Regions from separate parts of the Homo sapiens genome. Here region 2 is linked to region 1. The links come from fine-mapping of genetic effects on gene expression. A gene starts in region 1. The other region holds a variant in brackets. All regions are shown on one strand. Distances are from middle to middle. Region 1 holds the start of PLEKHA7 (pleckstrin homology domain containing A7). Region 2 overlaps PLEKHA7 (pleckstrin homology domain containing A7).

What was found. PIP is the estimated chance that this variant, and not a neighbour inherited with it, causes the effect.
Region 2: its variant is the best candidate, but not a certain one, in a credible set for the expression of PLEKHA7 in blood mononuclear cells (TOPMed, PIP 0.54).

What each region holds. Positions count from the first base shown.
Region 1 is chr11:17,011,913-17,016,296 of GRCh38, forward strand. PLEKHA7 (pleckstrin homology domain containing A7) reads right to left here and starts at 2,502. Exons shown (of 27, transcript NM_001329630.2): 1 at 2,404-2,502; 2 at 2,213-2,289; 3 at 2,077-2,134. The coding sequence starts at 2,489. RefSeq lists an enhancer at 264-1,025 and a silencer at 910-1,204.
Region 2 is chr11:16,961,380-16,965,763 of GRCh38, forward strand. The region is part of intron 3 of PLEKHA7 (pleckstrin homology domain containing A7); the gene reads right to left. Among named protein-coding and RNA genes, the nearest start is that of SNORD147, 38 kb to the left of the region's middle. The variant T/A (reference allele first, on the strand shown) is at 2,431.

The DNA of each region.
Region 1 (4,384 bases):
GGTGCCCAAGCCCTGAGGAGTCATCTTTGCCTCTTCTCTTTCTCCCACAGACTATTCAGTCCATCATGAAGGTGTGAAGAGCCTATTTCCTAAACACAGCCTGAATGTGACCACTACTCCCTGTCTACTGTGCTACCACCCTCAGGCAAGCCACTTCTAACTCCTGCCTGGAAGAGGGCAACAGCCTCAGCTGCTCTCCTGCCTCCCCCTGCAGTGGCCACCTACAATCCAATCTCCTCACAGTGATCGTTCTAAAAACACACACCAAATCATGCCATTTCCCTGCTTAAAACCCTCCAATGACGTTTCACTGGGCTTAGAATAAAGTATGAAAATTCCTCACCCCGGCTCACAAAGCTTTGCGGCATTTACCTTTCTCCTACCTGTGACCTCTCCTCATGCCACTTTCTCCCTTGTGCACCACATTCCAGCCTTCCTGCTCCTTAAACTCCAAGCTCTTTTCTGCCTTAAGCCCTTGCCCTGGCTGTTCGCTCTTCCCGAAATGCTTTGCCAACTCATCATCACATGATGTCTCCTTCTTGTCATTCAAATTTTACTTTAAATGTTGCCTATTCAGAAACACCATCCCGATCTCCCAGTACAACCAAGCCACCCAGTCACTCCATGTCACATCACCTTATTTTAACTTTCTGCACAGTAGTAACCACGATCTGATATTATTATTTGTGTTTTTTACTTATTTTCTACTCCCTTCCCTCTCCTATTAGATTGCAAGCTCCATGAGCACCTAGAACTTTTCTGTTTTTTGTTCCCAATGCCTAGAACAACGTGTGAACGTGTGGCACACAGGAAAATTGTAATAACATCAACTGATGCAGTTATGAGCCAGAGAGGCCCACTGACAGCAAGACTCTGATGGCCCCAGCCAACTCCCCAACTTCACATACACACATATGAGGCAGGGCAATAGAACCGCAGCAAGGCCCTAGTCCTTAGGTCTGTAAATCTCACCCATCAGTATTTTCAACTATTATGCAAGAACCCAAACCAGAAAAGGAGGTTCCGGGGTTTTCTTGAAATAGGCTGCTTTATTCCTAACAGTAGTAGTTCTGACTCACAGTCGCCGAGGTACACCCAGTCAGTACTAGTCAGACCACCGTCCAGACCTTTGGCGAGCTGATTCATTCAGTGAACAAACATTTACCGAGTGCCTACTTGCTGTCCGGCACTGGGGCAAGGGGTCAAAGGCAGTGTCTGGCCTCCCGGAGCTCAGCAGGCAGAGGGAAACACGCTGCAACACAGACTCCCGCCGGAGTGGGAAAGCAAAGCCTGTACTGGCATAGGAGCCTGACCCGCGCCTTCACTTACTGCGCCCCAATCTGACATGGACTGATCCTACAGACCCAGGGTAACCTGGCTGGTGCGCCAACACTCCGGGGCTTTTGCGGAAAAGTCGCCCGTGGACTAACGGAAGCACCAGCAATCCCCCGGTTCAGCTCCGGCCGAAGAGACGCGGAGCGCTCGAGGAAAGTCATTGGTTGACCAGTTCCCTTCCCCACCCCCTCCCTCCCCGCAGGCCCGCGCAGTGGATGGAGGCCGGGGGCGAGGTTCCGACTCTCCAAGACCATCCCAGAGCCTGCGGCGGGAGAGGGGGCGTCCTCCTAAGCGAGATTCCCCTAGTCTCTCCCTCTCCCCACTCCAACCCCGCAGGCCCACACCAGGACAGAACTTCTCGTTCTACTCCTCCCACCCGAGCCCATCCAGGTCCCGGCACTCGCCTCTCCCGGCGGGGCGCAGCCCCAGACCCTAGAGGGGAGGCGTGCCCAGCCCGCACACCAGCACCCGAATCCAGCCGGATTGCAAGGTCCAGGGCGCAGAGTCTGCGGCCTCTTCCCCCCCGGCCCAGGTCCCCAGCGTAGGTGCGGCCCCCACCGCCTTCCTCTCGGAGGCCGCCAAACAACTTGGGCACACAAAACGTTGAGTGTGGCCGCGGCGCAGCGCGCGCCAACGAGCCCGGGCCGGCGGGAGCAGAGGAAGGGCGGGGCGCCCGGCGGGAACGGGGAGGGACCCCCCCCCCGCGGCACAGGTGCGAGCGCGGCGGCCCCACTCACTCACTCGATGAAGTAGCTGGCGCCCTCCTCCGTGAAGCCCTCCTCCCAGCCGCGGGGCAGGTCTGCGGAAACGCCAGAAAAGTCGGGTCAAACTTGGGCCGCCGCTGCGCGCGCCCCCCACCCGCCGGCCCGGCGCCCACCTGAGCGGATCATGTGGCCCGAGTTGACGGGCTCCCCGGTGCGCGGATGCAGCCAGGTCGTGCAGCGGAGCTGGTCACTGCGGGCAGAGAGGTGCACCTGTTAGCGCCGCCACAGCCCGCCGGGTGCCCGCCCGGCCCCCGCCCCCGCGCCCCCACCCGCGTCCCCGCGTCCCCGGGTCCTCGCGCCGCACTTGATGAAGAAGACGCGGCCATCCCGGCACACCCCGTAGGACCAATGCTCAGGTAAAGTGTCCCGCCCGACCGTCGCCGCCGCCATGTTCGCCGAGCGCGGAGCCGCCGCGGGGTGGGGGGGAGGGGGCGGGGGCGCGGGCAGGGGCGGAGGCGGGGGCGGTGGCGGGGGCTCGGCCTGCGCGTGGCCCGGCGGCGCCGCGAGGCGCTCCATCCAGGCGCGGGCTCCTGAGGGAGCGACCGCCCGGCCGGGTCCTGGCGCCCGGAGTTCGCAGCCGCTCCGGCCAACCCAGCGCAGTGCCCGCGGCCTTTGTCCCCGAGCCTTCCCCGCCCCCAGCCTGCTGGCACCGGCGCTCCCCTTTGCCCCCGAGGCCGGGAGACCCGGGCGGCGCGGGGGGCCGCTGGCGGGGGCCGCTGGCGGGCGCGCCTGGGCAGCTTCGGGGCGCGCGGTTGGACCCGACCAACTCCGAAAACGGCGAGCGCCCGAACGCTCAGTAAACCCCAGCCGACCCGCACCACAGAACTTCCCGACCCGGGAACTCCGCTTGTGTGTGAACCAAGTTAACACTCAGGTTCCTGCCATATTCCCAGCCTCCTTCTCTTCCCCTGTAAGGTTAATCGAGTCCACACGGGATTGTTGTGTAGATTAAATGAAGTAACAATCGCATAAAGTGCTTAACCGGACCATGGCATGTAGTAGGTGCTCTATCAACGGCAGGCCGAGCGCGATTTCATTTTCCCAAGTTTTCAGCTGGGATGTGAAACAGGAGGGAGCAGGGTTACCGCCACACACCACTGAGGTTGCAGGGATCGCAAGCTCTTGCCTTCAGTTTCTGTCAAGTAACAGAAAAAAGGGGTTTTGAGGGCTCGGCAGCACGTCCATCTCTGGAAGAGCGGTGGCCAGGCGGGGCCTCTAGGGGGCCCTGCAAAGCTCTTTGCAGTGGCGGCACCCTCTCATATTCGGGTCTTTACTCCTATCTTATCTCCTCGGGGAGCCCTCCCTGAGCCCTCTGCAAAGAAAATCCTTCCCCTCCTTCCCTCGCTATTTCATTACTTGTTTACATTTAATTGATATTTGTGTTTGTCTTGTTTGTTGTATATTAGTTCCAACATGTCAGCTGGATGAGAGAAGGGGCTTTGATCTACCTCATACACTGCCTGGTCTCCAATGCCTGGAACAGCACCTGACTCATGTATGCATTACGCATTCAATAACTGTAGGATGGGGTGGGGCACGGTGGCTCAGGCCTGTAATCCCAGCACTCTTGGAGGCCGAGGCGGGTGAATCACTTGAGGTCAGGAGTTCTATTCCAGCCTGGCCAACATGGTGAAACCCCGTCTCTACCAAAAAAATACAAAAGCTAGCCGGGCGTGGTGGCGGGCGCCTGTAATCCCAGCTACTCAGGAGGCTGAGGCGGGAAAATCGCTTGAACCAGGGAGGCAGAGGTTGCAGTGAGCCGAGATCGCGCCGCTGCCCTGCAACCTGTGCAACAGCGAGACTCAGTCTAAAAAAAAAAACTGCAGGATGAGTGAATGAAACATACTCCACACTCAGACTCCCGGCCACACACACACACACACACACACACACACACTGAGCAAAGACAGAGCAGCAGCTGGGCTCCAGCTGTTGTCAGGCCCAGCCTTCTCGGGACATAGGCTCTGATTGATGGGAGGAGGCGCGCCTGAAAGTGAGACTGTATGCAATGTGAGCACTAGTTATTCAGAAAGGTGCCCAAACAGGTGGAATTAGGCTGGACCCTGAAGGACTGGTTAGGTTTGACTGGGAAAAGAGCACTCCAGAGGGGAGGGATGGGAGAGCATGCACATAATTTTGGGAGGGCTGTGAGATGTTGATGAGACCATAAAGGGGCCCTTCCTTGGGAACAGACAGTGGTGTTGGGGAAGGAGGCATTTATGAGTTAGAAGAGGTAACTGGTTGCAGAGGACGGGGGACACCTGTCTGAAGGAACCTCCTGCCTC
Region 2 (4,384 bases), 51 kb before region 1:
TGGGAAAAGTACCTGCTTCTCACACCAGCCCTGGCCTCTCAAAGGCTATGAGCCTTCCTCAGCTTCCAGCCAGGCAGCCAAGAGCTCCAGAGAGTTTACAATTACGGGCTACAGGCAACCGGAGAAGTGGCCCAGAAAAGAGGCCCTCCAACCCTGCACCCACCCCTGGCTGTGCCTGGAGGGTGACATCCTGAGCTGTTATTCTCCCCTGGGCAGCATCATCCCCAGAAGGGGACAGAGTTGTTTCAACCTTGGTCCTCAGACACACCCTGGCATCATCAAAGTGAGAGACAGGATTCTGGCAGGGCCCGGTGTGTGGAAGGTCACAGCAGACCCATGGCATCTTCCAGAGAGGGGGTGAGAAGGCCATGGACTTTTGAGTCAGATGGTCCTGAGATGAAATTCAGGTTATGCCATTAATTCGTGATTTAACTTAGGCAAGTCTTTCACTTCTCCGTGCTTCAGTTTTCTCACCTGTAAATTAGGATCAGTACCACCTGCCTCATTGGCTGCTGTGAGATAACATGAGTAAAACACCTATGGAAGGGTCTGGCACATAGTAAGTGCATGACGAATATGTCCTGTGGGGCCTGACCACAACACACCAGGTATAAAGCAGGAGCCTACGTTGCAAAATCAAGCTGATCCCACTCCCACTTCAGAAGGGAGGAAATGGGGGGAAGCAAGTCAACCTTTAATCGATTCTTTTTCCTAAAACAGTGCCCTGTGCTTCAGATGAGGAGGCAGCCCTGTGGCTTTGGCAGAAATGACTGATGTACATGGTGGCAAAGTGCTAGAGACAGACTGCCTGGATTCCAATCCCATCTTTGCCTCTCGCTGGCTGTGTGGCCATGAGGGGGCTAATTAGCCTATGTTTTCTCACTCTGAATGGGCATTATCACAGTGTCCACCTGATGGGGTGGTTGTGAGATCACTTGTGTAAAAAGACTCTTGGCGACCAGTCAATGAGCAGTAAGTGCCCAATATCTTTCCACCGTGGTTATTATCTCCACTGTGCAACACTCACGACCCAAAACCACCTTAAGTCTTCGCTCCCTGAGAACTCAAGTTCTGCCTGTAGCCACAAGCACCTTATTTTTGGATACAGTCTCATACCATTGCCCAGGCTGGAGTGTAGCAGTATGATCTCAGCTCACTGCAACCTGTATCTCCTGGGTTCAAGCGATTCTCCTGCCTCAGCCTCCTGAGTGGCTGGGACTACAGGTGCATACCACCATGCCCAGCTAATTTTTATATTTTTAGTAGAGATGTGGTTTCACCATGTTGGCCAGGCTGGTCTTGAACTCCTGACCTCAAGTGATCCACCCACCTCAGCCTCTGAAAGTGCTGGGATTACAGGCATGAGCCACTGCACCTGGCCCACAAGCACCTTGATGTGGTCCTTTGGCAGCCTCCCCTGAACTTGTGTTTCTAAGAATGTCTCATGTACCCACATCTCCCAGAAGCAACAACAACAACAACAAAAAGAAAATCACAGTGCTCAAGATATGGGGCCTGGCTACTGGTGCCTTGGGAACTAGATGGCACTGAGTGGAGCTCTGAGTTAAAGATACAAGAGAAGCAAATGCATACTTGTTCCTCCCACTGCAAGACAATCAGAGTGACGAGGAGCAAGGCAGCCACTGCAACCCTCTGGATTCAGCCTCCTTTTCTGTAGATGAGGTGGCCTTCCACTCCTTGACCCAGGATGTATCACGGAAAGACAAGGCCTTGTACACAGTGCAGTCCTCCTAGAGGAGGGCCATGCCACTTCTGTGCAGCTCCAGGACTGGGACAGGGATGGTGACATTAGAAAAGCAGAGAAGCAAGTGCCTGACCTATAACCATATTTGGTATTTTCTAGACTTCAGCATCTTTTATTTTTAGAGGTATGTGTTCCAATTTGGTTGAGGTAGCTGCAGGCTCCTTGTACCTTGCTTAATTTAGGACTTTTTTTTTTCTTTTTTGAGGGTGGAGTAGGAGTTAAATACAGCTTTACTCAGCCACCCCCTGGATTCTAAGCCCTAAATTTAACTCCAAAGAAACTTGTCTTGCCCTACTTCATGATTCCAAACCATAGACAGAAACTATTACCTGTTTCTGCAAATCAGAGAGCCCTGACAATGGAGCACCAGGGAGGTGTGTCATCCATCCTGGGGTGCTGGGCTGCAACACTGGAGCTGTCGTCAGCTGACTGGGGAGAGGGGCAAGAGGGGGAACAAACGGCCCTACTTTGTGGCCTAAATCTTGATGAACATGTCCCCTGGGGAGCCAGGAGAGCTATTTGTACAGCCAGTCAGAATGACCAGGGTGTGGCCACAAGTGTCCCATTCGAGTAGCCCTAATCTGGCAGCAGGTATCCAAAAGGACAGGGACACCCTGGCATCTGATCAGTAGGTGCACTGCATTTGGACAAAAGAATTAACTACC[T/A]GTTTCTCCAACCCTGCCCCCAGCCACCTCTCATTGCTTTTATGTTTAAGGTCTTATTCTTACTTTATTATATTCGCAATGTTGTGCAACCAACGCCACTATGTTCCTAAAACTTTGTTACTACCTCAAACAGAAGCACTCTTAGTTATCAACAACCCCCGATTTCTCCCTTCCCTCAGGCCCTAGAAACCTCTAATCTACTTTCTGTTTCTATGTATTTGGCTATTCTAGGTATCTCATAAAAGTGGAATCATAGAATTTGTCCTTTGGTAATTGGCTTATTTTACTCAGCATGATGTCTTTGAAGTTCCTCTGTGTTGTGGCATGTGTCAAAATTTCCTTCCTCTTCAGGGCTCAGTAATATTCAATTATATGTATATATCACATTTTGTTGATCCATTCATCTGTTGATGGAAACTTGAGTTCTTTTCACCTGTTGGCTACCATGAATAATGCTGCAATGCACCTAAGTGTACAAATATCTGTTTGAGCTCCTGCTTTCAATTCCTTTGGGTATATACCTAGACATGAAATGGCTGGATCACAGGGTAATGCTATTTAGATTTTTGAGGAACCACCAAAGCAGGGCAGCTGCACTATTTTACTTTCCCACCAGCAATGCACAACACACAAGAGTTCCAATTTCTCCACATCCTCACCAATCCTTGAGCTGTACCCAAGCCTAGGAAACAGCCTTTCCCTCATACCCCAGGATGTCTGCACACTCTTGGAACTTCCTGAGGGGCCTTGGGGTAACAGCAAAGGACTGCAACCAGAGAAGCAACTAGGAGTGTTTCACTCTGGGATTCCTTCAGTTTGGTAAAACTCCAGACAAAAAGCATGAGGGCTGGCTGGGCAGGGCCTTTCCTGCTTCTGAAAATCAGAGCACCTGAAATTGGAGGTCCAGCCAGCTGTGCGCTCTCTTACAGGGCACTGCGCTGCAGTAATAGAGCATTCCTTAGATACTGGGGGACACCAGGGGTCTCCAAAGTGCACAGCACTCAATCCTGAGGTGCTCAAGATGACCCACGGAGTTCTAGAAGAAAACAGTAGAACACCTATTCAGGTTTATTTTTATGCCATCCTTTTACAATTGTGTGTGTTTTCATTAGCACAGCAGGTATGTATATAATTTATAAATGAGCATACATGTGTTGGGGCAAATGCTCATTTATTAATGGGATATACATGATTTAAAAAAAAAAAAAAAAGGTTTGGGCCAGATACAGTGGCTCATGCCTGTAATCCCAGCACTTTGGGTGGCCGAGGCAGGCAAATCACTTGAGGTCAGGAGTTTGAGACCAGCCTGGCCAACATGGCGAAACCCCGTCTCTACAAAATATACAAAAAAAAACCCAAAAACATAAGTCAGGTGTGGTAGCGCGTGCCTATAGTCCCAGCTACTTGGGAAGCTGAGACACAAGAATCACTTGAACCTGGGAGGCAGAGGTTACAGTGAGCCAAGATCACACCACTGCGCTCTAGCCTGGATGACAGCACGAGACTGTCTCAAAAAGAAAAAAAAAGGTTTGAAGACCCCTATCTTAGACCAATTCTTCCTTTGTTGTAGTTTTTTCCTCTGAATTTTAATGTATTGTGTCAATGGCAATGAGAAAGATATCTGGGGGAAATAACTCACAAAACCCACCACCCTCATCCCCTTAGTGCCTGACACTTCTCTATTGCCAACTCACCTTTGGGTTCTCCTACTCCTGGGGGAAGTGAGAGACAGGCATCTGTAGACAGAGATGCAAGGGGAGGGGAGAATGGGCAGTGTATTTTCTTCTCCCTGAGACACATACCCTACTCCAGCTCAAAGCCCAGAAAAGGGAGGTCTGTATCCGAGAAGTGAAGAGCTCAGCTTTGGAATCAGAGATACCTGTGGGTGAGTAGTGGCAACCCCATTAACTTCTGAGGCAAATTAGGTCATTTCTTTTGGCCTCGATCTTCCCAT